Linked DNA regions of Homo sapiens. The protein of the gene in region 1 interacts with the protein of each later gene in a biochemical or structural test. Each region holds a gene or a part of one and is shown on either strand. Other genes may lie near its edges. The genes, in order: UBE2I, NOP58, TOP2A, XRCC1, SUMO3, HNRNPM and NACC1.

Region 1 (3,500 bases):
AGAATATCAACTGTGATGGTCCCTGGTGGGGCTAATGGTGGCAAACTTTTCTGCTTTTTTGTAAAGAAATAACACAGGGTCCTAAAAGCCCGTATATCCTGGAAGCAGAGGGTCTGCGTCGGAACAGCCGACTCTGGAAGGGCGTTGGCTATGTCCCTGGACGTCTCCTGCAGCTCCTCCCATCTCCCCTGAGTCTGGCCCAGCTGGAAAGGATGTGGGGGCCACAGGTTAAGTGGCCACCCTGGGGCCTGTGTTCCCAGACTGCCTGGCTGTGCTGGGAGTTCTGTCCTGGGAGAGACACAGCTTCGTCTCGGCTGCGGCCGTGTCCCCAAGGCTCTGTTCCCTGTGTGCAAAGGTGGATATGTCTTCCTTTAGTCTCCTCATGGCCACAATTTAATTTTTTTGAAAAGTTTTTGGCCAAATAACCTGGCTACCAACCCGGGGCCCCAGTGTTGGGAGGAGGGTGATGTGGGGAAGGACGTGACTCTGGGACAGTGCCTGCCTCCAAAAAGTGCTTCCTTTCTTCCTCTTCCTCCAGGTAAATTCGAACCACCATTATTTCACCCGAATGTGTACCCTTCGGGGACAGTGTGCCTGTCCATCTTAGAGGAGGACAAGGACTGGAGGCCAGCCATCACAATCAAACAGGTACGGGGCCTCCGCCTCTGGCACCGGCAGGGCTGCCTTAGTCTCCCCTCCGGACACGTGGGTCTGTGGTCATTCTCTGTGGCTGAGGCCGAGTCTCACGGTGTCTCCCTTTCAAACTGCTCACACCCGTCTTGTGTTTTTGTCTCTGGCACAGATCCTATTAGGAATACAGGAACTTCTAAATGAACCAAATATCCAAGACCCAGCTCAAGCAGAGGCCTACACGATTTACTGGTTAGTAGCAGCCCTGGCCCCGCTGGTGGCAGCTCCTCCCCGTCCCAGCCAAGGCCGCCTGGCAGGACGGGAGTGGAGGACACAGGCTCACCCTACGGACAGCCAGGGTCCACGCCTCTGTGGGGAAGGTCGGGGGGCATAAACCCTGTGGGCAGCAGGCACCGTTGCACACCGTCTGCGGTGGGCATGGATGGCGCCGGAGCCGTGTCCCGGGGAGGGAGCAGGCCAGGTGACGGGCTGTCTTGGGCCACTGCCCCAGTGAGTTGTGGCCAGCTAGGAGGGGAAGGACCCTGGGCGTGGGTGCCAGAGGAGGCCATGCTGAGAGGCCTCTCCACCGGCTCAGCCTCCCATGGACCCCAGCCTCCCGCGCCGCCCTTGCTGCTTGTCCCCATCCCCTCTACAACTTGGTTCCTTCTGTGGGGGGGCCCAGCCCAGCAGGGCTCAGTGACGTGATGCTGTCACACGGACCCTGGGCTTCCACCCTGTCCCTGTGAGGTGCTGCTGTGGCTAGAAGGGTCCCCGTGGGCCTGGGGTCCTGTCTGCACCGAGGAGGGCCTGGTGTGAGTTAGGATGCAGACGACAGCCAAACAGTGCTGGGGAAAGCAGGGAGGACCCTGCCCTGAGCAGAGGCCATGCGCCCGCCTGTCCTGTTCCCTCTGCAGCTGTTCTGGGCAGGTCCATAAGAAGGTGGGTTGGGGCCTCCGACCCCCCACTGCTCCGCCTGCAGCGTTGAGAAACCCAGCCCCATCTCACCACGGGTCCCCACACCTCTGAGGGGGTCTCAGGGCCCCCAATGGCCAGGGACCCAGAAGGCTCACCTGCAGCCACCCCACACATCCCTGCCACTGTGGGCATCAGAGGCCCTCTCCCTCCAGGGTGCATCTCCTGGTCAGGAGGGGGGAGGCTGAGGGGTCCCGGTTGCCTTAGGCCCGGCCTGCACAGGTCGTGAGGAAAAGCACCTGGTTTCGGCCGGGCGCAGTGGCTCACGCTTGTAATCCCAGCACTTTGGGAGGCCGAGGTGGGTGAATCATGCGGTCAGGAGTTCGAGACCAGCCTGGCCAACATGGCGAAACCCTCGTCCCTACTAAAAATACAAAAAATTAGTTGGGCGTAGTGGTGGGTGCCTCTAATCCCAGCTACCTGGGAGGCTGAGACAGGAGAATCACTTGAACCCGGGAGGCGGAAGTTGCAGTGAGCCGAGATCCTGCCACTGCTCTCCAGCCTGGCGACGGAGGAATGCTGTCTCAAAAAAAAAAAAAGCACGTGGTTTTGGAGAGATGTGTTTCTCCCTGGATGCGGGCCCAGCCCAGGTGTCTGCAAGGTGCCCTCCCTGGTGGCCGAGGGTGGCACAGAGGCCCCAGGCAGGGAGCAAGTATCACAGCAGCCACCCCAGGCTCAGCCTGGCTCCCCTGCATGGTGGTGCACACCTGTAGTCCCAGCTATTTGGGAGGCTGAGGTGGGAGGACTGCTTGAGCCCAGGAGGTTGATGCGCAGTGAGTTGAGATTGCAGCACCGCAATCCAGCCTGCTTGACAAAGCGAGACCCTGTCTCAAAAAAAAAAAAAAACTCATAGCCGCTCAGTCAGCCAAGCCATTGCTGGAAGTGGCTCGTGGGACGTGGCGTGACCTGGGTTTGTGTGCTGGCCTGCTGTGCCCTAGGAGTCCGTGAAATGCATTCCCTTGGACAGGAAGCCACAGTGCTCGTGGGTGTCCACATGGCCCTTGAGGCAGAAAATGTTTTCTTTTTTTTTTTTTTTTTTTTTTTTAAACAGAGTCTCACTCTGTCGCCCAGGCTGGAGTGCAGTGGTGTGATCTCAGCTCACTACAACCTCTGCCTCCTGGGTTCAAGTGATTCTCCTGCCTCAGCCTCCCAAGTAGCTGGGATTACAGGCACCCACCACCACACCTGACTAATTTTTGTATTTTTAGTAAAGACAGTGTTTCACCACGTTGGCCAGGCTGGTCTCGAACTTCTGACCTCAGGTGATCCACCCGCCTCGCCTCCCAAAGTGCCGGGATTATAGGCATGAGCCACCGTGCCTGGAAAATGATTTCTAGGCCAAGTGTGGTGGCCCAACACCTGTAATCTCAACACTTTGGGAGGCCAAGGTGGGCTGATTGCTTGAACTCAGGAGTTCATGACTAGACTGGGCAACATAGCGAGACCCTATCTCTACAAAAAATTAAAAAATTTGCCAGGGGTGGTGGCTCATGCCTGTAATCCCAGCACTTTGCAAGGCCACTGTGGGACGTTACCTGAGCCCAGGAGTTGGAGACCAGCCTGGGCCACATGGCAAGACCTGCTCTCTTTAAAAAAAAAAAAAAAAAAAAAATTAAGCCGGGGATGATGGTGCATGCCTGTAGTCCCAGCTATTTGGGAGGCTGAGGTGGGAGGACTGCTTGAGCCCAGGTGGTTGATGCTGCAGTGAGCCAAGATTGCAGCCTGGGTGACAAAGTGAGACCCTGTCTCAAAAAAAAAAAAAAAAGCATGCCGGGCGCGGTGGCTCACGCCTGTAATCCCAGCACTTTGGGAGGCCAAGGTGGGCAGATCACGAGGTCAGGAGATTGAGACCATCCTGGCTAACACGGTGAAACCCCATCTCTAGTAAAAATAAAAAA
Region 2 (3,500 bases), on another chromosome or scaffold:
ACTCCACACTTCCAACCTGTTCTAAAAAACGCAAAATAGAACAGGTAGATAAAGAGGATGAAATTACTGAAAAGAAAGCCAAAAAAGCCAAGATTAAAGTTAAAGGTTAGTTTGAATTTTTTTTTTAACACAACTTATACTCACTTCTTTAGAACTGTGGATTTTGTGAGTCTTAAAAGTACATGCCATCCCACTTTATTATAAAACTGCTCATTGAACGCTAATGGTGTTTTAATAATGCCATTATGTTCTCTGGGAATATGATATTGTTAAATTTATCAGACTGCACAGAGGAAATGTGAGAAGTTTAGTCAAATTAGGTATTTTACTAAGAGTTCCAAAACTTCATTTCTCCTACATGAACTATTTGGAGAATTAAGAGAAAAAAGGAACGTGTTTTCTAAATTGGTTGTTGAAAATTTTTTGTTTTATAGTTAAGAATGAATACAGAATTGATGGAACAGTGATTTTCTTCATTGTTTCTCTTACACGGAGCGGACTGGAAGGAATACATACTGGTAGCCTGCCGTCATAGTTACAATATCTAACAGGTGCTCACCAGTTAACTAGGCTGTCTTGTGAAGTTGATAAGCAGGCGCCCCATTATTAGTTACACCTGGGTTTATTGAACACCTACTAGCAAGTCTAGCAGAAGAGTAAAGCATTAACACAATGATTGCTTTAACTTGGTTTCTAAGTAGCTTAGTGGTCAAAAGTATATGATCTACAAATGTGGATAGTATACTTGATAGAGAAAACAAACAATTTATTTAACTTTTATGCTTCTTTTTATTGAAAAGTAAGGAGATCCCTAAACCCACTAGTAGCATTTGAGGCACCAAACTCTGTCCTTTGTATCCTCAATTGTGTATCCAATAAGCTTTTCCAATTTATTTGTCAATTTTTCATCCCACAATTTCCCCCCTCTTTTTTTACCCCCAAGACAGAATCTTGCTCTGTCACCCATGCTGGAGTGCAGTGGCATGATCTTGGCTCACTGCAACCTCCACCTCCCAGGTTCAAGCAATTTTCCTGCCTCAGCCTCTTGAGTAGCTGTGATTACAGGCACGCACCACCACGCCCAGCTAATTTTTTTATTTTTAGTAGAGACAGGGTTTCACCATGTTGGCCAGCCTGGTCTCAAACTCCTGACCTTGTGATCCACCCACTCCGGCCTCCCAAACTGCTGGGATTACAGGCATGAGCCACCACGCCCAGTCCTCTCCCATTTTCTATATGTGACAATTCCAGTTGCTTTGGCCATCAACCTTGACTTTTTTCTCATAACTCAATCTAGTCTGACAGCAAATCCTCTCAGTTCCACTTGAAAGTATGTAGTAGCCACAGTGGAACCACCACTAGCTTTTTAAATCTAAATTTGTTCCAGCCATACTGGCCTGCTTGCTATTTCCTGAACCTACTATCCATCCACTTATCCCATCTGCCCTCCAAAACGCCTTACGACTTAAGCATCTGCTCTACTCTACCTGGACTATTTTCCCTCAAGATACATGTATCATTCATTCACTCCCTCACCTCTTCTAGGTGTTTGCCGACCATTCTGCCTAAAATGGCCATATATACTGCCCTTTTCCAACATTCCCCTTCCTGCTTTATTTTTATTCTTACCACTTTAATATCTATTATGTAATGTATCATTTATGTCTCCACTCTGCCACTAAAATAAAAAAGATTCATAGGGAAACGAATATTTTTGCCTCTTGTGCCTTGCTCGAATTGTTTAGTACAGAGTCTGACATGAATATTATTTGGTTGCTGAATTGCTGAATTTCTCTCTCTTTTCTTTTTCTTTTTTTTTTCTTTTTTTTTTTTTTTTTTTTTTGAGACAGAGTCTCCCTCTGTCGCCCAGGCTGAAGTGCAGTGGCGTGATCTTGGCTGACTGCAGCCTCCGCCTCCTGGGTTCAAGCAATTCTCGTGCTTCAGCCTCCTGAATAACTGGGATTACAGGCATGCACCACCATGCCTAGCTAACTTTTTTGTATTTTTATTAGATACAGGATTTCACCATGTTGGCCAGGCTGGTCTTGATATCCTGACCTCAAGTGATCCTCCCGCCTCAGCCTCCCAAAGTGCTGAGATTACAGGCGTGAGCCACTGCACCCAGCTGGTCACTGAATGTCTAATGATAGCTATGTGTTGAGTCCTTATTGTAATGTGTGCTAAGCATTATACTTAGTGCTTTCTATGCATCATCTTTTTAAATCAGTAACAGTCCAGTAAGATAAGACATTCTTAAGTTTTATAGATAGGGAGCTTCACCAAGGGTAAATACAATTTTTCAGGGTTGCAGCAGGTAGATTAAACCCAGGCCGTCTGACTTCAGAGTGCAAGCTCTTAACCATTTCTAATATAATTGACTTTCTTCCCAATAATGATTGGAGATCAGATGACCTTTGTTTTAATCCTGATTTTTATACATGACTTCATGATCGTGAGAAGATTGCTCTGAGCTCTATCTATATCATTCGTTAAAGTTAGTGGTAGGCCTTGGAGAACCTTCCCAATTATAAAATAAACAAAACAAACATTGGGTAGTTGATGAGAATGACAGAAAAAAACTAGGACTCAAACGTTTTTGGAAGGAATGAGATCTGATACAGTGTTAATTTGTTGTGCCTTTACACTTACCCTATTCAGTTGAAGAAGAGGAAGAAGAAAAAGTGGCAGAAGAAGAAGAAACATCTGTGAAGAAGAAGAAGAAAAGGGGTAAAAAGAAACACATTAAGGAAGAACCACTTTCTGAGGAAGAACCATGTACCAGCACAGCAATTGCTGTATGTTTGTTTTTAATTATCGGTTTTCACTTGGAGGGGCCAGTTCTCTATATTTCAATCTATTTTCTATATCAGAAATGAGCAGGCATTTTAAAAAATGGTTTTCATTGATGGAGAGGTAAAAGTGAAATGGCTTTGTTGTATTTATATTATAAAAGGCCATTTCCCAAATCTAGAATTTATTACTAAAAATCAAGTTTGCATTGAGGGGAGGAGTATGATTTGCTCAAGCTTACTTTTTTTATAGGTGGGGTTTTTATATTTTCAATGTGATTACTCACCCATACAATTTCAGCTCTTTCAAAGCATTCTTGTTGGCTATTTTCAGAGTCCAGAGAAAAAGAAGAAAAAGAAAAAAAAGAGAGAGAACGAGGATTAACAGAAAGGAATTACGATTATATCACCCGGACACACATCATGCTTAAGATTCAACTGGGAGCATACCAGGGATGCTCTCTAACGTAATCAAGGGAAGGTTCAGTAAGACAAAGTGATTTATCATCTATAACTTCAAACCTATTTGTCTTGACATCAACTCTGTTAACCTTATGTCATCATTTCTTAGAGTCTTTGATATACAAATAAAATTTTCTTTGTATTTTAAGACAATTTTGTGATCTCTTTATATCTTAGGTAGAGAATCTTTGGCTCTTTCTGTAGTTTGCCATGTGATGATTATTGTTTTGATAATTATAACTGAAAAGT
Region 3 (3,500 bases), on another chromosome or scaffold:
AGAAAATTGCTTGAACCCAGAAGGCAGAAGTTGCAGTGAGCCGAGATTGCGCCACTGTACTCCAGCCTGGGTGACAGAGCAAGACTCCATCTAAAAAAAAAAAAAAAAAAAGGAGAAAGCAGGGCTATCCAGATGGTTTCAGAAGGTTATTTGTTACTTAAATCTTCCTAATAACATTTGTTTCTCAACATTATTTTAACATAAGAAAAAAGGCCAGCACTGTGGCTCACACCTGTAATCCCAATGTGCTTTGGGAGGCTGAGGCAGGAGGATCACTTGAGATTAGGAGTTCAAAACCAGCTTGGGTAACGTAGCAAGACCTCATCTCTACAAAATGTTTTTTTTAAATAGCCAGGCATGGTGGTGTGGGCCTATAGTCTCAGCTACTCCGGAGGCCAAGGTGGGAGGATCACTTGAGACCAGGAGTTCAAGGCTGCAGTGAACTATGATCATGTACCATTGTACTCAGCCTGCGTGTCTCTTAAAAAAAAAAAAACAAAAAAAAAACCACCAAAAGCTTTATTTCTTAAATTTAACATGCAAATTTGTATTACTGCACTTCAGTATAGATGCCTAGCTCATTGTAATCAGTTGGTTGGATAAGTGTGCATCACTTCCTTTCATATTTTGTATGTGAGTTTACAAATATATATGTATATACATGTTTTATTTTTAGTTTCTCCCTTGTTTTCCTCAAAAAGGTTAAGTGGTAGAATCAGGAATAAAACCCAGTCCTTCTGTCTCCACACCTTCCTTTTCAAGGTGTGTTTTAATTACATCTTCACTATTGTTGATAGTATACTAGGTTATGGAGCAATTTATCACTAGTTTTTAAGATGTAACAAAATGAAATCAGTTTAACTGTTGGGTGTTTAGATATTGTAATGTTTTTGTTAACATTTAAACTTGCTTTCTTATATCCCTTCTGTAGGCTGTTGAAGCCAAGGAAAAACAAGATGAACAAGTCGGACTTCCTGGGAAAGGGGGGAAGGCCAAGGGGAAAAAAACACAAATGGCTGAAGTTTTGCCTTCTCCGCGTGGTCAAAGAGTCATTCCACGAATAACCATAGAAATGAAAGCAGAGGCAGAAAAGAAAAATAAAAAGAAAATTAAGGTAATACTCTTGTGGTGGCTCACACCTATAATCCCAGCACTTTGGGGGCCAAGGTGGGTGGATCACTTGAGGTCAGTGGTTCAAGACCAGCCTCCCAACATGGTTGAAACCCTGTCTCTACTAAAAATTAAAAAAATTAGGCGGGCATGGTGGCAGGCGCCTGTAATCCCAGCTACTCGGGAGACTGAGGCAGAAGAATCGCTTGAACCCGGGAGGCAGAGGTTGCAGTGAGCCAAGGTCACACCACTGCACTCCAGCCTGGCCAACAGAGCAAAACTCCATCTCAAAAAAAAAAAAGAGGTAATACTCTTAAAAATATTATGCATAAAATATTGATGCATATGTCCACTTAAAATTGAAAAAAAAATGTATAAAATTTTTTTGTTGTTGTTGTTGAGATGGAGTCTCGCTGTGTTACCCAGGCTGGAGTGCAATGGCAGGATCTCAGCTCACAGCAACCTCCGCCTCCCGTATTCAAGCGATTCTCGTGCCTCAGCCTCCCAAGTAGTTGGGGGCACATCACCACACCCAGCTAATTTTTGTATTTTTAGTAGAGATGGGGTTTCACCATCTTGGCCAGGCTGGTCTCGAACTCCTGACCTCAAGAGATCTGCCCACCACGGCCTCCCAAAGTGCTGGGATTACAGGCGTGAGCCACCGCTCCCAGCCAAAAATGTATAAAATCTCTAATCCCATAGTTCAGAATTTATTCTATATCCAACCCTAACTTTGCTATCTTTTAGAATGAAAATACTGAAGGAAGCCCTCAAGAAGATGGTGTGGAACTAGAAGGCCTAAAACAAAGATTAGAAAAGAAACAGAAAAGAGAACCAGGTATTACAACATTTTTAGAAAAATGGTATAAAGTGAAGATTAAATTGTGTTTGTTACCTAGTACATTCCACATAGATGTTCAAAACCTTTTTGTTGAATTGAGAAACGTGAAAGAGGACTGTATCTCAATTCTACTTGGACCTCTTTTTTTTTTTTTTTTTTTTTTTGAGACAGTTTCACTCTTGTTGCCCAGGCTGGAGTGCAATAGCACAATCTCGGCTCACTGCAATCTTCACCTCCTGGGTTCAAGCGATTCTCCTGCCTCAGCTTCCTGAGTAGCTGGGATTATAGGTGCATGCCACCACGCCTGGCTGCTTTTTGTATTTTTAGTAGAGACGGGGTTTCACCATGTTAGTCAGGCTGGTCTCAAACTCCTGACCTTGTGATTTGCCCGCCTTGGCCTCCCAAAGTGCTGGGATTACAGGCGTGAGCCACTGCCCCTGGCCTGGACCTCTTTAATATCGTCCTTGGGATTTGATTCATTATAGAAAATATTTTGTAATGAAGTAGTTTGTTAATTTGAATTCCTTAATTGGGATCTAAGAAAATACCCAGTTTATTAGATTTCATTTTCTAGCCACTTACGAGGTTCTAGTATACAAAGTTTCTTAAGAAAAGTGACTACATATTAGTAATGTTTGTAGTATCTCTAGAGTTCAACATCATGCTTCGGATATAAATAATGTCCACTCAATGAACTAAATAGAATTAATAATTCTGTTAATCATTTGATAATGCCTTTACTGTCTACTTTTTTTGAAACATCTTTATTGAGATATTCACATGCCAAATTTGCCCATTTAACGTATACCATTTGGCTGGGCGCCATGGCTTATGCCTGTAATCCCAGCACTTTGGGAGGCTGAGGCTGGCGGATCACTTGAGGTCAGGAGTTCAAGACCACCCTGGCCAACATGGTGAAACCCCATCTCTACTAAAAATACAAAAATTAGTTGAGTGTGGTGGTGCGTGCCTGTAGTCCCAGCTACTCGAGAGGCTGAGGCACGAGTGTCGCTTGAACCCAGGAGGCAGAGGTTGCAGAGAGCCAAGACTGTGCCATTGCACTCCAGCCTGGGTGACAGAGCAAGACTCCAACTCAAAAATAAAAATAAAGTATGCCATTCAGTGGTTTTAGTATAGACAAACAGTTTTAATACAATTTATTGCCCCCCAAGAAAACTGAACTCATTAACAATCATTTGCCATTTGCCACCAACTCCTCTCCACTGGGTGACCACTAAAAAATCTAGGGGCATTTCCTATAAATTAAATCATATAATATGTGGTCTTTTGGAGCTGACTTCTTTACTTAACACATTTTCAAGGGTAACCCATGTGGCAGCCCATATATTAGTACTTCATTCTTTTTTTTTTTTTTTTTTTGAGGCAGAGTTTCGCTCTGTCGCCCAGGCTGGCATGCAGTATGCAGTAGTAGTGAGATCTCGGCTCACTGCAACCTCCGCCTGCTAGGTTCAGGCAATTCTCCTGCCTCAGCCTCCCGAGGAGCTGGGATTACAGGCACGCACCACCATGCCCAAATAATTTTTGTATT
Region 4 (3,500 bases), on another chromosome or scaffold:
GGACTATAGGTGCACACCACCACACCCAACTAATTTTTTTTTTTTTTTTTAAGCTTTTTGGAGGCAGCTTCCTGAGTAGCTGGGATTACAGGGATTACAGACAGAGCCACAAAGACCTGGCCATTGGGGTTTTATTATATTTGCTTTCTGAATGGGTATTATATGCATATAGTGCAAAATTCAAAAGGTGCAAAAGGGTATACACTAAAAAGAAAATCTCCCCTCACCCTTTCCATCCCTCCCTGCTCCCTCCCCAACTCCTGCTCCCTCCCCAACTCCTGCTCCCTCATTCTTCTCTCCTGATGCAACCACCATTAGCAGTTTTTTTGGGTGGTCTTCCTGGGTCATTCTGTACACATACAAGCATATATACCTACCGCCTCCATCCCTTTTTAAAAAATTCATAGTATATACACTGTTCCCTTGTGTGTTTTTTTTCAAGTAACAGTGTATTTTGGAGATGCACACTGCATGAAGTTCTACCTTATTTATTTATTTATTTATTTACTTACTTACTTACTTACTTACTTTGAGACAGAATCTCGCTCTGTCACTCAGGCTGGAGTGTAGTAGTGCGATCGTGGCTCACTGCAACCTCCCCCTCCCAGCTTCAAGTGATTCTCCTGCCTCAATCTCCCTAGTAGCTGGGATTACGGGCACATGCCACCAGGCTTGGCTAATTTTTGTATTTTTGGTAGAGATGGGGTTTCCCCATGTTAGCCAGGCTGGTCTTGAATTCCTGACCTCAAGTGATCCTCCTGCCTTGGCCTCCCAAAGTGTTGGGATTACAGGCGTCAGCCACGCCGTGCGCAGCCTACCTTATTCTTTTAAATGATGCATACAATTGCATTTCATGGCCGGGCGCGGTGGCTCACGCCTGTAATCCCAGCACTTTGGGAGGCTGAGGCAGGTGGATCACGAGGTCAGGTGTTCAAGACCAGCCTGGCCAAGATGGTGGAACCCTGTCTCTACTAAAAATATAAAAATTAGCCAGGTGCAGTGGTGGGCACCTGTAATCCCAGCTACCTGGGAGGCTGAGGCAGGAGAATTGTTTGAACCCGGGAGGCGGAGGTTGCAGAGAGCCGAGATCGTGCCACTGTACTCTAGCCTGGGTGACAGAGCAAGACTCTGTCTCAAAAAAAAAAAAAAAAGAAAAGATTGCATTTCATGGATGTGAAACAGTTTTTTAGCAATATATCTCAGGAACTTTGCCTTCCTGTGCCATGTTTGTTTCAGGAACAGTTCATATCAGAACTGTGTCTCCCTGAGAAAGCTGCATGCACACGAACCCAGGCCATCGGTGATAGTCATCTTGTGCTCTTATCCTCACAGCTGATACATACTGAGCACTCATCTCTTATTTTGAGAAAAATTCACATAAAATTTACTGTTTTAACCATTTAAAGTGCACATTTCAGCCAGATGCGGTAGCTCACACCTGTAATCCCAGCACTTTGGGAGGCCAAGGCGGGTGGATTGCTTGAGGTCAGGGATTCGAGACTAGGCTGGCCAACATGGTGAAACCCCATCTCTACTGAAAATACAAAAATTAGCCGGGGGTGGTGGTGCGTGCCTGTAGTCCCAGCTATTCGGGAGGCTGAGGCAAGAGAATCACTTGAACTGGAAGGCAGAGTTTGCAGTGAGCTGAGATTGCACCACTGCACTCCAGCCTGGGCAACAGAGTGAGACTCCGTCTCAACAAAAAACATAAATAAATAAATAAATAAAGTGCACATTTCAGGGTTTTTTTTTTTTTTTTAGCATATTGACAATGTTCTTCAACCATCTCCATTCTCTAATTCAGAATATTTTCATCACTCCAAAAAGAAACCACATAACCATTAAACAGTCACTTCTTATTCTCTCCCCAATGTTGCCCTTGGCAACCACTGATCTACTTTCTGCTTCTCTGGATTTGCGTATTCTGGACTTATAAATGTATACGTGGTCTTTTACACTTAACCTTGTTACACTTTGCATAATGTTTCTGAGGTTCATCCATGTTGTAGCATATATCACAACTTCAGTTTTTTAAATAACTGGATGATATTCCATAAATATACTGTACAATGTTTATCTATTCATCAACTGATGGACATTTATTGGGTTGTTACCATGTATATATAAACCTTTTTTTTTTTTTTTTTTTGAGATTGAGTCTTGCTCTGTTGCCCAGGCTGGAATGCAGTGGTGCAATCTCGGCTCACTGCAACCTCTGCTTCCCAGGTTCAAGTGATTCTCGTGCCTCAGTCTCCTGAGTAGCTGGGACTACAGGCGCATGCCACCATGCCCAACTAATTTTTCTGTTTTTAGTAGAGACGGGGTTTCGCCGTGTTGCCCAGGTTGGTCTTGAACTCCTGGGCTCAAGAAATCCACCTGCCTTGGCCTCCCAAAGTGTTGGGATTACAGGCGTGAGCCACCACCCCAGCCTCCATGTATAAACATTTTTATCAGATTCTTAAAAAGTATTTATTTACTTTTTTTTTTTTTTTTTTTGAGACAGAGTCTTGCTCTGCCACCCAGGCTGGAATGCAGTGGCATGATCTTGGCTCACTGCAACCTCCGCCTCCTGGGTTCAAGCAATTCTCTGCCTCAGCCTCCCGAGTAGCTGGGATTACAGGCGCCTGCCACCATGCCTGGTTAATTTTTGTATTTTTACTAGAGACGGGGTTTCACCCTCTTGGCCAGCCTGGTCTTGAACTCTCCTGACCTTGTGATCTGCCAACCTCTGCCTCCCGAAGTGCTAGGATTACAGGCCTGAGCCACCGTGCCTGGCCACTTTTTTTTTTTTTTAGATGGAGTCTCACTCTGTCACCCAGGCTGGAGTGCAGTGGCATGATTTCGGTTCGCTGCAACTTCTGCCTCCCAGGTTCAAGTGATTCTCTGGCCTCAGCCTCCTGTGTAGCTGGGATTACAGGTGCACGCCACCAAGTCTGGCTAATTTTTATATTTTTAGTAGAGACAGGGTTTCACCATATTGGTCATGCTGGTCTTGAACTCCTGGCCTCAAGTGATCTGCCTGCCTTGGCCTCCCAAAGTGCTGAGATTACAGGTGTGAGCCACTGTGCCCAGCCTGTTGTTTTCTCTCTTGAGACAGAGTCTCACTTTATCACCCAGGCTGGGGTGTAGTGGCTCGTCTCAACTCACTGCAACCTCCACCTCCCAGGTTCAAGTAATTCTTGTGCCTTAGCCTCCTGAGTAGCTGGGATTATTGAGGTGCGTGTCACCACACCCAGCTAACTTTTTTTATTTTTGGTAGAGACAGGGTTTTGCTATGTTGGCCAGGCTGGTCTCGAACTCCTGGCCTCAAGTGATTCTCCCGCCTCCACCTCCCACGGTGCTGGGATTACAGGCGTGAGCCAGTGCTCCTAGCCAGGACTTTTTTTATATACAAAGAAGAAATGTCAGGGAGTGCCTGTTTAAAGTAGAAATAGTTATATATGCAGTAGGAATTGTTCATTTAAAATACAAGCATCTCCATCCTACCACATTTAGGAGCT
Region 5 (2,946 bases), on another chromosome or scaffold:
GAATGTTTTATGTGGAAATATTTTTGCAAAACATTTAAGATTTTAAATATTTACTATTCAGTATTTAATAAATATTGAAAACATCTTTGCAACAAGTATCCATTTGTACCTACTTGAGGAAACCTACACACCGCTGAGGCAGTGGCAGCTCTGGGAGTGTTCACCAGGGAGAAGCTGCTGAGAGCAGCTGAGCAGGGAGGGCCTCGTGGAGTCTCTGGGGCTTGACTGGGGGTCAGGGGGCTGGCTGTGGACAGGTGGACCGAGAGGCAGAGGGAGCCCTGCCTGGGGGCTCTCCCTCCAGCCCATAGTGTCGGTGGCAGGGTGAGGGTGGCCGACAGCCCTGATGGGACTCCTTTCCATCTGGGAGCATGACTACTTCCAGCCTTGCTGAGTCTGTGTAGGAACTGGCAGAAGCTTCCTCTTGCTTAGAGGATGGAAGAAGATCAGGGTGGGTGTTTTGCGCCCACTGTGTCAGGAGGAGAGAAGTGAGCGGGGGTGTTTCACTACCTTGCCTGGGCTTTAAATGGGGAGGGGCGGGGAGAAGCTGGCAATGGACCCTCACTTGACGGGCCCTTCTGTGAGCTGGGGGCTTTGGCTTTCATGGCATGGTCCCCCGCACTTGGTATAAAGCGCAAGGCTCCTGTGGGTCCTAGGACTCAGTGCTGCTAATCAGATGTTCTTAATTAGAATCTGATTTTGTGTAATTTTCAGTAAGAATTTTAGACATTTCAGTTTATCTTCTAGACTCAGTTTTTCTCTCAGTTAACATTTTAGCTTTGAATCTGCTTTTGTGAGTTTTGTTAGGGGAAGCTTGTTGAACCGTAAGGGCTGTAGTGAGCATACAGCAATGCCTCTTCCATGCGTGCTGAGCTGCAGTGAGGGGACGGACAAGAGCCAAGGTGTGACCAGGTGATGTCGCTAGTGTCAGGGAACACTCATGCCAGTGAGGATCTTCCCACTCTCTGATGAAAACTAACAGGCTCCCCTCTCTCTCGCTGTGCCTGTTGTGACAACCATGACAGCTGGAGATGGAGGACGAGGACACCATCGACGTGTTCCAGCAGCAGACGGGAGGTGTGCCGGAGAGCAGCCTGGCAGGGCACAGTTTCTAGAGGGCCCGTCCCCAGCCCGGGCCGTCCATCCTCGCATTGCTGTTGAATGGTGAGCACGTGACCATGCCGACCACAAAGGTGTCTGCGGAAACTCGAGGACATTCACCACGATGATTTTCCTCTCTTTGATGTACTTCAAGTGCAACTCAAAACTATATCTGCAGGGATGAATCTGTAACTTAAATTGGGCCAATCAGAATTGTTATCTTTGTTCAGGTAAAATGAGTTGCAAGATATTGTGGGTACTTTTGTGTGCTCATTTGTGTTTTCCCCCCCTCCTACAACATTTTTTTAACCCCAAAATTATAGCCTGAATGTTCGCTTTTAGTCTGGCCAGGGATCTGACTCCTGAGTTGGTTGCCTCTCCCCTGCTCACTCCAGTCACATAGAGAATTGGTGTTTCCCGCAGTGGGGATGCAGCTGTTGGACAGGTATTGGGGGCAAGGTTGGTAGGGAGGACAGACTGTCACTTGCTGTTACAGGCACAGGTGATTAAAATGCTAAATATTGCAAATTTAAGCTTTGTCAGTATATGGAAAAGTTGAAGGGAAAATACTGGAATGCTTCTTCAAAGGTTAAAAAATAACCGAGTCTTTTGGTAATTTGACCCCACGTGCTCTCTGGCCCTCAAGCATGTAACCTCGGGGTCTGAGGCCCAGGACCCACCCCCCTGCCACCCCTCCCACCCCACTCCCTGCTCAGTACCTGGCGTTGGTACACAGGCAAGGATTGGCACAACCAAAATTGGCCTTTTTCTCCCTCTTAATATTGAAGAAATTCCCACATTTCTCATTTGGTAATGGTGTTGTGGCCTCAGATTTCTTCTAGTATTTGCTTCTGATGAATGATTATGGTCTATACATAAAAAAGTAAGACTAAGTATTGCTGAATTTGCAGTTATGTTGTCGTGTATAAGAGCTACTTCCAAGTGTGGTTACAAATGAACCCATGGAATGATGACTTCATGTTCTTCTCGTGGGTTTGTGCCGTGCTGCTTTCCAAATAGGTATTGAATTTATGCATTAGTCTGGTGATTTCAGTTCTGTGAAATATTTTGGGATCTATACCAATTAAACATTTTCATAGTTCTGCCTATTGTCCTTCCCTGAGGCTCCATTGCTGCTTGGTGGCCATTCTCTGCCTTTTTACAGTCACCTGAACAATGACCCATCATCTCTTGCTTGCTTGAAATCTTGCTGAAATGTTCTCATTTCCTGTTTGCTGTATGGGCTCGGGTGGGATGTTTGTTGGCTCTGTTGTGTTTATTCACCAATTTGTACATTATTTGTTGTCCTTTACTACTGTAAACAGTAAATATAGTTTGGTATTCTGTCTCTTGGCTTCTACTAAACACTGCATTTGAAGGTTGGGGCATACTGGTACAATTCAGTGTTTGAATTGACCATTCCAGGCAGCCACTGCACTGAGAAACTTTGATTGAAAAGCTAGCCGCTGGAAGGTTAGTATTCGCCTGGCAGCTCATTTCCCCTCCCCTGGCACATCACCAATGCTAGTCCAGCCTTCTTCCTGCTGAGGGATGCATCCTCTCCTCAGAGACCTCCTGGCTGACAGCTGTCTGAGCTGGCATCACTGTGACATGTTACCCTCCCTCTCCTGGGTTTCGTATGTAAAGAAAGGGTGGATTTTAGAGGCAGGTGAGCTTGGGTGTTAGTCTAGGACATCTCTCGTTTTCTGGTGTTTGAATGTAAGTCAGCTTTCCTTCTGCCATGGACAACTTACCTATCTGCTTTGAAACTGAACTGACATTGATTTGGCTTTAAGAATTTCCCAGTGTGCAGTGGTGTAACAAAACCCAGGTTGAAAATGAGCTGTT
Region 6 (3,500 bases), on another chromosome or scaffold:
GAGATTGGGCCACTGCACTCCAGCCTGGGCGACAGAGCGATACTCCTTCTTCAAACAAACAAACAAACAAGAACACTGAAGTTGCTATAGAGTTTTAAGGTTGGAGCACTGGCAGCCAGCTGATGGGCAGTGAATTTGGATTTTTATCTTGAAAGCCTTTGAGAGACAGGAGAAAAATAGAAACTTGGTTCTTTGGAATTCTTTCTCTACCAGGAGTGGAGTGTGCAGTAGACCACAAATGCAGTGAGCTAGCAAGCTTGATCTGGGAACCCAGGTTGGAAATCTTGTTTTGCAGTTACTTCTCTCCTGGGTGTGAGAATAGGATTTGCTTAATTTTGATGAGAAGTCTGTTCCAATTAAAGTCAGCAAAGATTCAGAGTTAGGGTATAGTCAGGGAAAAAAAAGTTCATTTTAGGGGAATGTATAGGTTTTTAAAATTTTTTTAAATGTAGTATCATATATAAAATAAATGACTTAACCTGCTCCCCTTCCTGAGTAATTTTTTTTTTTTTTTGAGATGGAGTCTCGCTCTGTTGCCCAGGCTGGAGTGCAGTGGCGCGATCTCAGCTCACTGCAAGCTCCGTGAACCGCTTCCCGGGTTCACGCCATTCTCCTGCCTCAGCCTCACGAGTAGCTGGGACTACAGGCGCCCGCCACCATGCCTGGCTAATTTTTTTAATATTTTTTTTTAGTAGAGATGGGGTTTCACTCTGTTAGCCAGGATGGTCTCGATCTCCTGACGTCGTTATCCGCCCGTCTTGGCCTCCCAAAGTGCTGGGATTATAGGCGTGAGCTACCACACCTGGCCCCTTCCTGAGTAATTTTGTGGGTGAATAAGAAACAGATGGATTGGTTATTTATAAAAATAAAAATATATATTTAGGGTAGATTCCTGAGGAGGTACTGTTAGAGTTGACTCCATTTGACAATCAAGAAAACTTTCGTTTTAAACACTTAAACCCAGGTTCAGGAACCTGACCTAAAGACTCCAGGGGAGGCCCTCCTGACTCCCAGGCAGCTTGCTGCTTTCATGATACTACCTTGGTAACCACTCAGTAAACAGCCGTTTGAATTGTTTTATTTAAATCAGATTCTCTATACAATGCATTTGAGTGTTTGCTGTACTTTAAAGAGTGATTGTTTATTCAAAAAGGATTTTGGAGACACGTCAGATTGTGAGCTCAAGATTAGAAGACAGGGTTTTGGATTATTTGAATGCATGCTGCCAGGCCTTTGCTTTCACTCAGCTCTTTGATTTTATTCTGGTTAGGGAAAGAGATACTAGCCTGCAAAGATTAGCTTGCTTGTTTTTTTGGGAGGGGGGGTTCTCCAATGGACTTCCCCATTACCATATTTTGCAGTCATAGGGTTGAAAGCTAAATTGTCCCTTTGCTAGTCTGTAATGATTATGATGCCTAGGTTTTCTCAGCCTTGGCTCTGGTTTGCTAGTTTTAAAGCCTGAACAGTAGAAGGCTAGGAGTGAATCAGTCCCCCTCTCTACCCTTCTCAATAAAATTATTGGTAGAAAAATACATCATTGCCTCACTGTGTGCTAAGAGTCTCTTTTTTTTTTTTTTTTGAGACGGAGTCTCGCTCTGTCGCCCAGGCTGGAGTGCAGTGGCGGGATCTCGGCTCGCTGCAAGCTCCGCCTCCCGGGTTCACGCCATTCTCCTGCCTCAGCCTCCCAAGTAGCTGGGACTACAGGCGCCCGCCACTACGCCCGGCTAATTTTTTGTATTTTTAGTAGAGACGGGGTTTCACCGTTTTAGCCGGGATGGTCTCGATCTCCTGACCTCGTGATCCGCCCGCCTCGGCCTCCCAAAGTGCTGGGATTACAGGCGTGAGCCACCGCGCCCGGCCTAAGAGTCTCTTTTAAAGCTGTAAGCGTGTAGGTAGTAGCCTCCATAGGACCGAGGCCTAGTGACGACATGGTGACCCCAGCTCTTAGCCACATGCAGTACTGCTTCCCTAGATGAGCTGCTTTTTGTTTTGCCATTCTTTGTTGATTGTCACAGTGTCCCTCTGAGCTACCATGCATACAGGTTGCGCTGGTTTTGCTGGTAAAGCGCTAGAGACAGAAAGAGCTTGAGTCATGTGGGTAGTTCAGTGGTGGCCTTGGAGCTGGAATGGTGCTGTGAATAGTGCTCTCCACACCTTACATGCATTAGAGCAGCGCAGGACTTGAGGGATTTCTGTGAAGAATCACTTTATATAAGGGATGGTTCTCACACGGGCAGAGGGGTCCTTGTCCCTCAGGAGATGTGATCACAATTTCAGGGTATTGGGATTGCCATTTCAAACTGCACCCTTTCCTTGATTAGAAACTCCAAAAGTAGTGAGTGTTACGCATGGGAACTGCATGGAGACCTTAAGAGAGGGTAGGCAGTCACTATTTGGTGGTGGTCTTTTGCAGATTAGGCACTCAATCTTTTTATTAGGGTTTTTTTGTTTTTTGAGATGGAGTTTCACTCTTGTCCCTCAGGCTGGGGTGCAGTGTACGATCTCTACTCACTGCAACTCCAGCTCCTGGGCTCAAGCGATCCTTCCACCTCAGCCTTCTGAGTAAATAGGACCACAGGCACATGGTACCATGCCTAGCTAATATTTTGTAGAGATGGTGTTATACCATGTTGCCCAGGCTGTTCTTGAACTCCTGAGCTCAAGTGATCCGCCCACCTTGGCCTCCCAAAGTGCTGGGATTACAGGCATTAATCGTATTTTTAATTTAATTTAATTAATTATTATTATTATTATTTTTTTTTTTTTTGAGATGGAGTTTTGCTCTTGTTGCCCAGGCTGGAGTGCAGTGGCGCTATCTCACTTCACTGCAACCTCCGCCTCCCGTTCAAGTGATTCTCCTGCCTCAGCCTCCCAAGTAGCGAGTAGCTAGGATTACAGGCACCCGCCACCATGCCCGGCTAATTTTTGGTTTTGTTTTGTTTTGTTTTTGAGACGGAGTTTCACTCTTGTCGCCCAGGCTGGAGTGCAATGGCATAATCTCGGCTCACTGCAACCCCCGCCTCCTGTGTTCAAGCAATTTTCCTGCCTCAGCCTCCCGAGTAGCTGGGATTACAGGCGCCTGCCACCACGCCCAGCTAATTTTTGTATTTTTAGTAGAGACGGGGTTTCACCATGTTGGCCAGGCTGGTCTCAAACTCCTGACCTAAGATAATCCACCTGCCTCGGCCTCCCAAAGTGCTGGGATTACAGACGTGAGCCACCGTGCCTGGCCTAATTTTTGTATGTTTATTAGAGACAGGTTTCCACCATGTTGGCCAGGCTGGTCTTGAACTCCTGACCTCAGGTGATCTGCCCGCCTCGGCCCCCCAAGGTGTTGGGATTACAGGTGTGAGCCACCGCGCCCAGCCAAAAGTTAAAAAGACTTGCAGAGTTAAGTTTTTATATGTACGTATACATATACATGGACTAGAGAAGAATCTTCCCCTAATTTTGTCCTGAAGATAGTGAGAAAATAGGATTGGACATGTTAAAAAAAGAGC
Region 7 (3,500 bases), on another chromosome or scaffold:
TGAGTATGTACCAGTCTTCTTCTGAGTGCTCTAAACATTTTGTCTTCATGAGGGAAGGAGTGGGGGGATGACCCTACTGTGGAGACAGAGACTCTAGTACCATTCACAAGAGAGTGAAGCCCTGTCTCTGGGTCTCCTGGATCTGCCCATCACCCCCAGATGGAAGTTCAGAACCCCTTGGCCTGCATCTAGGGTATTTAAAAAATCTGGCCTCCTGGCCGGGCAGCAGGGAGCCCCAGCAGGTTCTTGAGCTGGGCTTTGAGGAGATGTGAGTTTTGGTCAGCCTTACAGGGTCTATTGAAGGAGTCTGCCTGGAGGCCCGGGGGTTTGGAGAGAGTTTGGGGTTGGCCCAACATTGTCTGACCCTAGATTTCATCAGTGTCATTGCCAGAGCCTGTGTGGAGAGAGGGATCCCATCAGGCTTGGTGGGGCATATTGCTTTTGGGATGGTGGTGAGCCACCGGGGCTGGAAAACATGAGTCAGTGTTCATGCCACTCTGCGTCCTCAGATCCTCCGTGCCCCTCGTTTCTCCTCCTAGGTTGCTCTCAGCACTTGTACACACTCGAACTCATTTAAGCCCGTGGCTAGCAGGTCCTGCCTGTTATCATCATTTGACACACAAGGCAACTGAGGCACCCTAGTCCTTCCTTCACACAAGCTGCAAAGTGGTCTGGCTACCACCCCTGTGCCGCCTTCCAGCCACTTTCATGTTCCTCGTGTCTGCATTTGCTCCTCAGTCCTCTCAGCCGCTACTGCCTTCCCCTAGAGAACCCTCTGGGCCGCATGAGGTGGGGCCGGGAGGTGGGACTGGGCCTGCTTGCACATTAGGTGGGGTGAGGACCAGCCGAGCCGGCAGAGGTGACGTGTCTTAGGTTGTGATCTGTGTGTGGTTGTGGTCATGTCCCTCCAGCCTTCTCATGTGCTGCCTCCTTGGCGAAGGTCTCAGTTCTTAGAGACCTGTGCGTCTTCTCTGAGGGCTTTGACTGTGTCCAGTTCGTGGTTTCTAAATCGAGCAAAGGGAGAGGGTAGGTAAGGGTGAGCAGACACGGTCTAGTAGAGAGTGAAATTTCACACTTAGCACCACCCCTGTCTCAGCCATGAGACTCTGGGCAAAGGTCTTTACCTCTGAGCCTCAGTGTCCTCCTCTGATAAGGAGTGACAAGTGGGCACAACTATACTGCTGTGATTCGCAACTGGGTACAGTCCTACCTCCGGGGACACTTGGGGAATGTCTGGGGACATTTTTGGTTGCCCCTGCCGGGGGGGGGGGGGTGTGCTGCTGGCATCTAGTGGGTTTATAGGCCAGGGATGCGGTTCAACATCAGACAGTGTGTAGGGCAGCCCCCACCACAAAGAATGATTGACGCAAATGCAGTGGCTGGGTGGGGAATCTCCACTGTCTGGTTATCATGAGGTTTGCGGGAGAGGTTGGCGTCTGGGGTGTGAGTGGACAGTGCTGTGAAGGCTCTGGGGAAAACCCCAGCGATCACTGCCTGTTAATCCCATGAAATGTGCGAGGTCTGGGAGATGGTGAGAGGCATAAGATGTCTTCTACTCCCAGGGAGTTTGCGGCCCAGCACGGGGCCAGGGGATACGACTAACAGCAGCTGGCATTCATGAGCACCGACTACGGGGCGAGCGCCGATCGGCCTGTGTTCTTTGGTTGTTTAATCCTTGAAATAGCCTTGTGAGGTGGCTGCTGCTGTCAGCCCATTTTCTAGATGGGAGACTGATATGGGGGGTGAGCAGTATTGAGGGTAATTCTGAGTGACAAGCTCTATAAGGGATTTGAGCCTAGTACAATAGTAGGATTCAAAATCTTAGGTCCTGCGTGGTTCCCTAGCACAGCCCAGCAGGCCCCTCTCCCAGGATGATCCCCATCCCTCCACCCTCCTTTGTGTTAGCGGCACCAGGGTCACCTCAGGGCCTTTGCACTTACTGTTGTTCCCTCCACCCTTGGTTGCCGCCACTGCTGCCCTGTCTTTTGGGTATGATCTGATTACACGCAGGGAGTGGGATGTAACTCCGAAGGGTGGGCTTATGGTTGGAGTTGGTGGGGAGGGAGCGGGCAGGCTGCGAGCTCCATGAGGACGGAGGCAGAGCTTCTGCCAGGCTCTCCAAGGAGCTGGAGCTGCTGCCTGCAAAGGGAGGCCAGATTGCCGAGGGCTGCGAGGAGGAGCGAGTGGGAGGAGGGAGAGGCAGCACGCGGAGACTGCTCATTCCCGGAGATGGTGGTTGCAGGGAGAAGGGGCTAGAGAATAGCTGCAGTTGGGAGGATTGGGAAAGGAAGAATGAAAAGAATGAAGAAGGCCTTCCTTGGGGATTAGAGAGAGGGCACCCCAGACCCTGAGGTGGAGGTCCTCAGACAGGCAGAAGACCCTGTTTCTGGAGAGGACACATCCAGTAGCTCAGGTAAAGAGCCCCAGCTCTGGGCTCGGCCGGTCCGGGGTTCCCGTCTGGTCTCTGCCTTGCTTCTCTGAACACCAGTTTTCCCACCTGTGAAATGGGTCTAGTCACAGCTGCCTCACATTTTTGCCTGATTCGGGAGCCAGACGGCCTGGGTATAAACCTGTGCCTGCCATTCACCAGCTACATGTTCCCCACCTCTGGCTTCACCTCTCTGGGCCTCATTCCCATCCATGAAATGGCAGGCAGGCTCATTTCTTCCTCAGAAACTGTAAAGAAGAGTAAGTTAAATGAGCCTGTCTGAGCCCTGGCCAGGTATGGGCCCAGTCAGTGAGGCTTGAGTAGGGGACACTGTTACTAATCCTATTCCACCATGGATTTAACAATAGTCATTCAGGGAAAGAGATAACGAATTAAATCTGTGGGTGTATAAGAAAAAAAATACAGGCCAGGTGCAGTGGCTCACGCCTGTAATCCCAGCTCTTTGGGAGGCTGAGGTGGGCGGATCACTTGAGGCCAGGAGTTTTGAGACCAGCCTGGCCAACATGGAGAAACCCAGTCTCTACTAAAAATACAAAAATTAGCCAGGCATGGTGGTGTGTGCCTGTAATCCTAGCTACTCAGGAGGCGGAGGCACGAGAATTGCTTGAACCCAGGAGGCGGAGGTTGCAGTTAGCCGAAATCACGCCACTGTACTCCAGCCTGGGCGACAGAGGAAGACTGTCTCAACAAAAAAGAAAAAAAAATACTGATGCAAGATGAGGTCTTGCTGTATTGCCCAGGCTGGTCTCAAACTCCTGGCTTCAAGCGTCTTCCTGCCTCAGCCTCCCGAAGTTCTGGGATTACAGGTAGGAGTCACCGCCCCCCACTGAACAGTTTGTTCTTCACTAACTGTTTTCCTGGACTGCCTTCACATTCAGCCCCTACAGAGGGGTCTTTCTGGTTCTGGGTCAGGCAGGCAACCTGAGTAGCTGCCAGGATCCAGCCACATCCTGCTGAGCTGCATGAAGGACTGTGGGGCTCTCTGGGGCCTTTGTTCCTTGTTACACTTGGAGTTGCTGGTCTCCCTTAACTGGCTTGTAGGTCTTAGCCC

What was found.
Region 2: of the proteins of UBE2I (region 1) and NOP58, one has a biochemical effect on the other in vitro, tested with the Homo sapiens proteins (2 studies listed by BioGRID).
Region 3: the proteins of UBE2I (region 1) and TOP2A form a complex in vitro, tested with the Homo sapiens proteins (2 studies listed by BioGRID, with this or other methods).
Region 4: of the proteins of UBE2I (region 1) and XRCC1, one has a biochemical effect on the other in vitro, tested with the Homo sapiens proteins (2 studies listed by BioGRID).
Region 5: the proteins of UBE2I (region 1) and SUMO3 form a complex in vitro, tested with the Homo sapiens proteins (2 studies listed by BioGRID, with this or other methods).
Region 6: of the proteins of UBE2I (region 1) and HNRNPM, one has a biochemical effect on the other in vitro, tested with the Homo sapiens proteins (2 studies listed by BioGRID).
Region 7: of the proteins of UBE2I (region 1) and NACC1, one has a biochemical effect on the other in vitro, tested with the Homo sapiens proteins (2 studies listed by BioGRID).

Annotation. Positions count from the first base shown.
Region 1 is NC_000016.10:1,319,636-1,323,135, forward strand, and holds part of UBE2I (SUMO-conjugating enzyme UBC9), read left to right. Parts: intron 1-538; coding exon 539-648; intron 649-802; coding exon 803-882; coding exon of another isoform or gene 883-1,024; exon of another isoform or gene 1,025-3,500. UniProt on the Homo sapiens protein: Accepts the ubiquitin-like proteins SUMO1, SUMO2, SUMO3, SUMO4 and SUMO1P1/SUMO5 from the UBLE1A-UBLE1B E1 complex and catalyzes their covalent attachment to other proteins with the help of an E3 ligase such as RANBP2, CBX4 and ZNF451.
Region 2 is NC_000002.12:202,300,263-202,303,762, forward strand, and holds the end of NOP58 (nucleolar protein 58), read left to right. Parts: coding exon 1-105; intron 106-2,658; coding exon 2,659-2,795; intron 2,796-3,123; coding exon 3,124-3,174; 3' UTR 3,175-3,399; downstream 3,400-3,500. UniProt on the Homo sapiens protein: Required for the biogenesis of box C/D snoRNAs such as U3, U8 and U14 snoRNAs. Part of the small subunit (SSU) processome, first precursor of the small eukaryotic ribosomal subunit.
Region 3 is NC_000017.11:40,393,897-40,397,396, reverse strand, and holds part of TOP2A (DNA topoisomerase 2-alpha), read left to right. Parts: intron 1-931; coding exon 932-1,114; intron 1,115-1,857; coding exon 1,858-1,948; intron 1,949-3,500. UniProt on the Homo sapiens protein: Key decatenating enzyme that alters DNA topology by binding to two double-stranded DNA molecules, generating a double-stranded break in one of the strands, passing the intact strand through the broken strand, and religating the broken strand.
Region 4 is NC_000019.10:43,565,528-43,569,027, reverse strand, and holds part of XRCC1 (DNA repair protein XRCC1), read left to right. Parts: intron 1-3,500. UniProt on the Homo sapiens protein: Scaffold protein involved in DNA single-strand break repair by mediating the assembly of DNA break repair protein complexes. Negatively regulates ADP-ribosyltransferase activity of PARP1 during base-excision repair in order to prevent excessive PARP1 activity.
Region 5 is NC_000021.9:44,805,117-44,808,062, reverse strand, and holds the end of SUMO3 (small ubiquitin-related modifier 3 isoform 1 precursor), read left to right. Parts: intron 1-1,022; coding exon 1,023-1,112; 3' UTR 1,113-2,446; downstream 2,447-2,946. UniProt on the Homo sapiens protein: Ubiquitin-like protein which can be covalently attached to target lysines either as a monomer or as a lysine-linked polymer. Does not seem to be involved in protein degradation and may function as an antagonist of ubiquitin in the degradation process.
Region 6 is NC_000019.10:8,447,975-8,451,474, forward strand, and holds part of HNRNPM (heterogeneous nuclear ribonucleoprotein M), read left to right. Parts: intron 1-3,500. UniProt on the Homo sapiens protein: Pre-mRNA binding protein in vivo, binds avidly to poly(G) and poly(U) RNA homopolymers in vitro. Involved in splicing.
Region 7 is NC_000019.10:13,121,264-13,124,763, forward strand, and holds part of NACC1 (nucleus accumbens-associated protein 1), read left to right. Parts: intron 1-3,500. UniProt on the Homo sapiens protein: Functions as a transcriptional repressor. Seems to function as a transcriptional corepressor in neuronal cells through recruitment of HDAC3 and HDAC4. Contributes to tumor progression, and tumor cell proliferation and survival.